Linked DNA regions of Homo sapiens. Each later gene encodes a partner of the first gene's protein in a complex. Each region holds a gene or a part of one and is shown in the gene's direction. Other genes may lie near its edges.

What was found. Proteins that work in one complex are often made in the same cells at the same time.
Region 2: CNOT6 (region 1) and CNOT11 share a complex: the UniProt entries of both Homo sapiens proteins name them as parts of the CCR4-NOT complex.

What each region holds. Positions count from the first base shown.
Region 1 is NC_000005.10:180,574,233-180,578,182, forward strand, and holds part of CNOT6 (CCR4-NOT transcription complex subunit 6), read left to right. Parts: 3' UTR 1-3,950. UniProt on the Homo sapiens protein: Poly(A) nuclease with 3'-5' RNase activity.
Region 2 is NC_000002.12:101,262,886-101,266,485, forward strand, and holds part of CNOT11 (CCR4-NOT transcription complex subunit 11), read left to right. Parts: intron 1-1,959; coding exon 1,960-2,162; intron 2,163-3,236; exon of another isoform or gene 3,237-3,600. UniProt on the Homo sapiens protein: Component of the CCR4-NOT complex which is one of the major cellular mRNA deadenylases and is linked to various cellular processes including bulk mRNA degradation, miRNA-mediated repression, translational repression during translational initiation and general transcription regulation.

The sequences.
Region 1 (3,950 bases):
TTGTAAACTTGTGAAAATCTGAACATAGGGGAGTGAGGTATGGCCACTGAGGATTTTTGCTTGCTTAAGAATGATTTGGACTTTCAATCTGATTATTTGATAAGGATATAGTATGAAAGCCAGGTGCTAGCAACAGACAAATTCTGAGCCCAATATGCTTTATACTGCTAGACAGGGATTGGTGTGTTTGCACCTGTCTTTCATTTGTCATAAGAGATTTTCCTATTTCTTCTACCCAATAGAATATTTTCATGCCTGGAAATAGGAAAATGTGTGAACAGCGTATTCTCTTCACACAGAAATCTGTAGCACTGCTTTTTTGAGGCCAGTAGCAACATCCAGAGATCATTCTTCCATACTTTACTCCCTCCTTTTTCAGACTTGTTTGTAAAGTACAGAATCTGAATTTAGCCTTTATGATTGTATATGATCCACAGAAGACCTGATTTATGAAATTTTGTACTAAAATCATTTGGAAATGATTGTATTGTAAACTGAGGCTAAATTTTTTTTTAAACCTGTTTCATGTGTTATAAAGGCCAGCTTGTAAAAGAAGCTGCAACAGACTTTCTCTGCTCATGATTTGCACTCTTAGGGTTTTGTTAGCCCTTTTGTACTACTTTCTTTTTAAATTGAGAACATGGTTCTTTACATATAAATCTGCTTCAACCTTAGGATGTTTTCAGACCAGAGGCAACTTATTCATGAATTTTTATGAAAACTATCTACTAGGACAGATAAGCTGAACAGTGATGATCTGTAGACATTTATGGACTGAATGTAATGGTTGATATATGTACATTCTGATATTTTTAAATCTTTAACTTTTTAAAGTTAAAAACCTACAGCTGCTTAGGTCCAGCTTCTTAACTCTTTTTGAGACACTTCCTGTCCTATCTCCACTGTGCCTGCCTAAATTTGTTCTCACCAAGCACTGCCTGTGCATGCAGAGAAAATCTGTGCATCCTCTTTTATATTTTTAAAATACTGTTTAACATTTGTGAGAATTTTATGAAAATGCTTTTGTATGAGCTGTGGCTTTTTCCCATTGTGAAGCATTGAATATCACATTTTGGAACATGTTATAGGGTGAGTCCCTGGATCTTTGCTCACCAGATCCAAGCACTGCTTCTCGGTGTCATTGCAGTGTGCTGCTTGTCACCCAGAATACTACTATCATGTGAATTCTTTTTGTCGTCAGTGTCTTTTCCTTAGTCTTTTTGTTGTTGTTGTTGTTGTTGTTTTAATCATTCCTTTTTTAAGAAGAAGTAATTTTCCATTTATGAAGCAGTATGAATTAGATGTATTTTCAAAACAGGTCCCTAAGACAATTCTTCAGATCATTTTTAAAATGACTAAGTCATTTTAGTATGTCAAGCAAGATAAAAATTACATCATACCGTCTATTTTGCCCATAGTGCCATTTAGAGATGAAAACCAGCTTTAACTTTGCAAAGTGAACATGTACATGGTCTGCTCTCATTTATTCATTCTTCTCTCAAAAGTCAAATGAATGCAGAGGGAGCTTGGTCAAACTGCTTTTGTTTCAACTGCAGGCAGGGGAGCAAAAGGACGCCATGTGAGCATTAGGAAAAAAAATACTCACTCTTACTAACAATTTTTATACAGAAAATGAGTCATTTTGGAAATGATTCTTATGTTTTTTTTTTTTCTCCTTTTAGAAAATTCTCCAAAAGGTTTTGATGTTGAATCTTGGTCTTGGACCTGTTTTTTCCTTTGAGGGTTTTTTGTTTTTTGTTTTTTCTAGGATTTCATTGTGATGTTTTGGTTTTGTTTTTTGCTTTTTGTTTAAGTTGTGCTGACACCAAACACATCCAGTTTATAATCAGTACATTGGAAAGCTGGTATTGATGTAGAACCAGTGCATAACTTTTTATGGGGTTTTGTTATTGGTTTTTTTTTGTAAAGTGTGAATAAAAGGTATGTTTACTCATTTTTCCTGAACACTGTGTTGGTAATGTGCATCATGACAATTTCCAGTGAAGGTGAGCTGGAGCTGGTTGGACTAATGAGACTGAGGAAGCAGCTTTTCCTACGATCTGCATTATGTAATCACAGGTCCAGAGAGCTTTATGGAAGCGGGAGAGGAGGAGCACTTACTCATGTTGTATTTGTTAATGGAGGATGTCATCTTTTCATAGATGCTGGAACTAGAGTGCACTTGTTAGATGCTAAAGGTTTGAGCTTTACACAAAATGTCTTCATCTGTATTTGTTATTGTCTACAATATATTTGAATTTGGGGCAGCATATTAAGATGTAATGGCCTGTTATGTCTTGAAAATACTTGTTTTGCCTCTTCCAGGCATACTGCATTCTGTGGATCAGTTTGAACAGCTTCTCCACCTTATTTGGACAGTGATAAATTGAACCAAGAGTGTAGATTTACAAGTGTAACCTTCAAAAGAGGAAGAACTATTTGGGGTCTGTAGGTAATGAACAGTCACACCAAAATAGACTATGATGCTTTTGTTAAGAAAGGTTTCATGTTTTAGATATTTTCCGTGTCCTAAATAATTTTCAATAATCTATAATCCCTAAAATGCAATAAAAACTAGTATGTTTTCACGGTGTATATTTTTTTTCAAAAATTCTGTAACAAATATATTTAATGTGTTGCCATAATGTCATTTCAGTATTTTTGCTGGATAAATCCATTTTAGAAATGTCTTACAAAAAGTTTAGGGCATGTTTTCTGTTTTAAAGACCAGAAGTTTGAAGGCACCCAAATCCTTGTCGCCAATCTCCTGAAGTACAGCTTTACCATATTAGTGGTCATTATTTATGCTTTGAGAGTTTCAATATTGTTCGTCAAGTTAACTTATGGCATAATTTAAGCTAAAGTTGTAGAAATGAATTGTTGAGTGCAACTTTCATAGTCCCAAAGATAGGCAGAGAACATCTCCAGAAATGTGTGTGTGTGTGTGTGTGTGTGTGTGTGTGTTTAATATGATTTAGTGACAACCAGGAAAACTTACTTGGGATTATTAGCACTTTCAAACTTAGGGACATTATTAAATTGGATGGAATGCACTTCTAAATGTTTAAATTAAAATTTCAAAGCTCTTTCGAGATTCAGGTTCTCAATAATAATATTCAAGTTTTAGAGTTTCACTTTGTACTATTTAAATTTATGGAACTAGTTTCCATACTGACTTGTAAGGTTTTGGGGTCATATATAAGGACTAAAGCCAAGCTAGGCAAAACAATGACAGCACCGTTTTTTCAGTGAAGCTCTCAGAATGTCCAGTACAGATGTTGCAGATAATTCCAAGAACTCCTTCAGCAGGTGTTCTTCACCATTCGTAAACAGTATTTTAAGATGTTCACTTTGCTCTTCTTTTTGGTTACATACATTTTAATAACTGGTATGTTGAAGTAGTGTCTAAAAGTATCTAGTCTTTATTCACAGTACATTATATTGTGTGATGCACTGGACTAACTCTTGTTTACCATTCATGTAACAAAACCCAGCACATTATCTGCACTATAAGCTCAAAGAATGTCACATCCGCCCAGACAGCTCTTTGATGAGGGTGATGGGAACTGAATAAACCATACGGACTGGCAGTAACAAGGGCTTTTACTGTTCTGTTCAGTGGAACCTTCTTGGTCAAATTGTAATTAGCTAGCATTATATTTATATACAGGGTCTTTTTTCTTTACCGATGTATTTTCCTACTCATAGCCAACCAATAAATTCAGTATCTGTTTCAAATATTTTAGAAGTGTAGTTTGTATAGCTGTAGTACTGAGGTTTGAGGAAAAATAAATGTTGATCAGCAGACCACGTATTTAAAATTCTGAATCTTCTGGGACAGGGTTGTAACTCAGCCTTCCAAAGGGAAGAGTGCAGGGGGACGGGGCCATGATATGGGGAAATGGTGTAAACTAATGTATTTCTTTATTGGCTGTTATTCTGTATAACAC
Region 2 (3,600 bases), on another chromosome or scaffold:
AATGCATGCCAAGTTGTTTGTTGCATGTCTATCCTATGCATACCTAAAGATACAGGCTGGGCGCAGTGGCTCACACCTGCAATCCCAGCATTTTGGGAGGCCGAGGCAGGTGGATAACTTGAGGTCAGGAGTTCTAGAGCAGCCTGGCCAACATGGTGAAACCCCATCTCTACTAAAAATAAAAAATTAGCCGAGTGTAGTGGCATGCATCTGTAGTCCCAGCTACTTGGGAGGCTGAGTCAGGAGAATTGCTGAGGCAGAAGTTGCAGGAGCCGAGATCGAACCACTGCACTCCAGCCTGGGTGACAGAGTGAGATTCTGTCTCAAAAAGGAAAAAAAAAAAATACAGATTCTCATTTTACTGAAATGAGTCTTTTTGTAGCAGCTCATTATCTTTTTGTTTTATACCTGTTAAATCTTCTTATTGCTATCATTTCCTTTTCCATTTTAAAGTTTTTCTTATAAACTCCTAATTTACTTTAATTCAAAGAAAACACTTGTAGAATTTGAAATAATATAGCTGCATTTTTTGGGGATTTCTTTAAGAGATGGAATCTTGCTATGATGCCCAGGCTGGACTCAATCCCTTGAGGCTCAGGGGATCCTCCTACCTCAGACTCCCACATAGTTGGAATTACAGGCATGCACCACTCTACCTGGCATCTGTTTTATAGGCTTCTGTGTGCTTTGAATTATGAAGGCAAGCTTTCTGCTTTGGGATGAGAACATGTTTACCAGATGATAGTGTAGTATCACCATGAGTTTGAAGTTCACACAGTGACTTTTGTACCATTTGGTTTACAGTAGATCTTTGACATACATAGGTTTAATATTTGAAGTTTCTGCTGGTCACAAGTGTGACTGAAATGTCCATGGCATGTAATGGCTTCTTTTAAATATTTGCTCGGGCAGAACTCTAAATTGCATAGGTCACCAGGAAGATATATGAAAAGCAGATCACTCATAATAAGTGGGTCTAGCCAAACACCAGGTGTCCCCACCTCGCAAGAACTCTCTATCACATAAGTAGTATTTCTCATAAATTGTTAAAAACTTTATTTTTGTAAGTGGTTGAAGGGAGATTCAGATGCTAGTCCTGGTGAGGTAAGTGAAGAGGCAGTGGAGATGTTTAAGATAAAGTGATGATTTTTAACTAAAAAATATTTTCTGTAAACTCAACAGTAGACTCTCAAATTTGGCAGGGCTAGGATCCATGACAGGAATAAGCCACTCCTGCCCTATGTGGAAACTATGTGAGATGTGAAATTGGTTCAGCAGAAGTCCTAGCCAGCATTTATTTCAGTGGGTTTGTAACTCAGGGATGAATCTTGTTTTATAAAATAGTTGAGTTGAACCACTTCATTTTCCTTTTGTACTTCTATTGTTTTCTGAAAATGAATATAGTATTTGTGAATTTAGGGATTCGTGACGGTTTCCACATTCGTTTCGAAATATCAAAAGGCAACCATACTTTTCCTCCTGCTGCTTCATCGCCACGTAATTTGTTACTTCAGTTATAAGATGCAAAGATAAAACTAGTACAAATCATAGTGGCAGCTGAACAAATAGTGGTAACTAAGAATAGGATGTGTGAGGGCATAGTATTTCATTTTTTCATCAAAAGACTTCACCCGTTTAGGAGTCGTGCCCTTTTGCTGTTGAGTGGCCATGCTCAAGTGCAGCATGGGCAGATCACGGCCAGGCTTTCCTCACTTCTGCAAAGCGAATAGATTGTTCTCTGGCATCATGCTGGCATAGTGTTCTTTCATTGTCTTGTTTGCATTCTGACTGAAACCCTGACTTCCTGTGTCATTCCTGCTTCTGATTTTGAAGTATGAGAGTTCTAGTCACATCATCCTTATTAAGAGATTTCTTTGCATACTTTATTAAGTGAAATGTGTGAGATGTGTAGAGATGTTAGCTTCCTGATAGGAGCAACTATCACGGCTCTCATTACAGGCCATTTTCGACCAGAGTTTATTCGTCCACCGCCTCCACTCCACATTTGTGAGGATGAACTTGCTTGGCTAAACCCCACGGAGCCTGACCACGCGATCCAGTGGGATAAATCGATGTGTGTTAAGAATAGCACTGGTGTGGAGATCAAACGAATAATGGCCAAAGCCTTCAAAAGCCCCTTATCCTCTCCCCAACAAACACAGGTGTGTATTGATTGTAAGCATTTTCTTATCTTTTTTTTTAAATTTATTTTTAATTAAAAAAATTTGTTTTTGAGACAGAGTCTCACTCGGCTGCCCAGGGTGGAGTGCAGTGGCACGATCTCGGCTCACTGCAGCCTCTGCCTCCCGGGTTCAAGTGATACTCGTGCCTCAGCGCCCCCAGCAGCTGAGACTACAGGCATGCACCACCATGCCCGGCTAATTTTTGTATTTTTATGAGATGGGGTTTTGCCATTGTTGGCCAGGCTGGTCTGGTGGCTTCAAGTGATCTGCCAACCTTGGCCTTCCAAAGTGCTGGGATTACAGGTGTGAGCCACTGTACCCAGCCATTGTGAGCATTTTCTTATCTTTAATCCAACAAGAGTTTATTTTTTTTTTGGAAAGTGGTAAGCAATAAACTAATCCTGTCACTGTGAGTGAGCAGTAGGAAGTTGCAAAGGTTTTTGGGTCTCTGAAGCTTTGTTCTACTCTTTGGTAATTTTGCTGTGGTGGGGCAAGAAGTCTGATGGCAAAAATGTTCTAACTTTTCTTTGTGATGTTTGTCCCTGGGAGAGGTGGGGTAGTGGGGGTGTCACTGCTGTGTACAGTGGGACACTACACAATGGTTACGTTTGAGCTGATGGTAACGCTTCTGATGGAAAGTGGAGTTACTGACAGGCTGTAGGGAGGAAAACAAGGCTGGGAAGGGGAACCCGCCCCCATCACACAGCTGGATCGTGGTGTATTTGAGATTAAAGTAGCCCCCACTGCCCGAGTGTGAGACTGGATGACTCTCCTCAGGAAAGGCAAGGCCACTCTTCTATTGGTTGGTGAATTTTATCCAGTTTGCACACTTTTGAGTTAGAACTTTTTAGGAGATGACCTCTCCTATCACGTTTGCCACCAAAAATATCATTTTCAAAACGAAATAATAGCAACGTTTGTAGTTCGCTTTGCTCGCAAGACCATCCTGAAAACACAGTCCACTGTGGAACATATTAAGTAGACGGGGGAAAAAAAGCATAGGACATTTAAAGAGGAAGTGCTTACTTCATAGAAAAAGTCCTTTGAGGATACCTGTTTGAATTACAAAGTGTGGGTGTGACTTGAACTGTAAAGTTCTGCAGACTGATGACTCGCAGCAGGTCAGCTGTCCGGATTCCCGCTCCGGCTTCCCACTCCGCCCCCTTCTCAGGTATTTCTGGTCTCCACCTGGGTGGGGTGGGGCAGGACTGTTTCTTGGGAGAACTAGTTGGTCATTAAGATTATTTTTAGTTACAACAGATGACAGAAAAAAAAAACCTGCAAAGGACTTGACATTGTTACAACCAGACAGTATTTTATCTGACCAGACAGTGTGGAGTCTGGTTTGATGCCCAGGAATAGGAATCACTAGCATATTTATAAACTGTCTTAGATGTGTTTGCATTTTAGTTTGTTC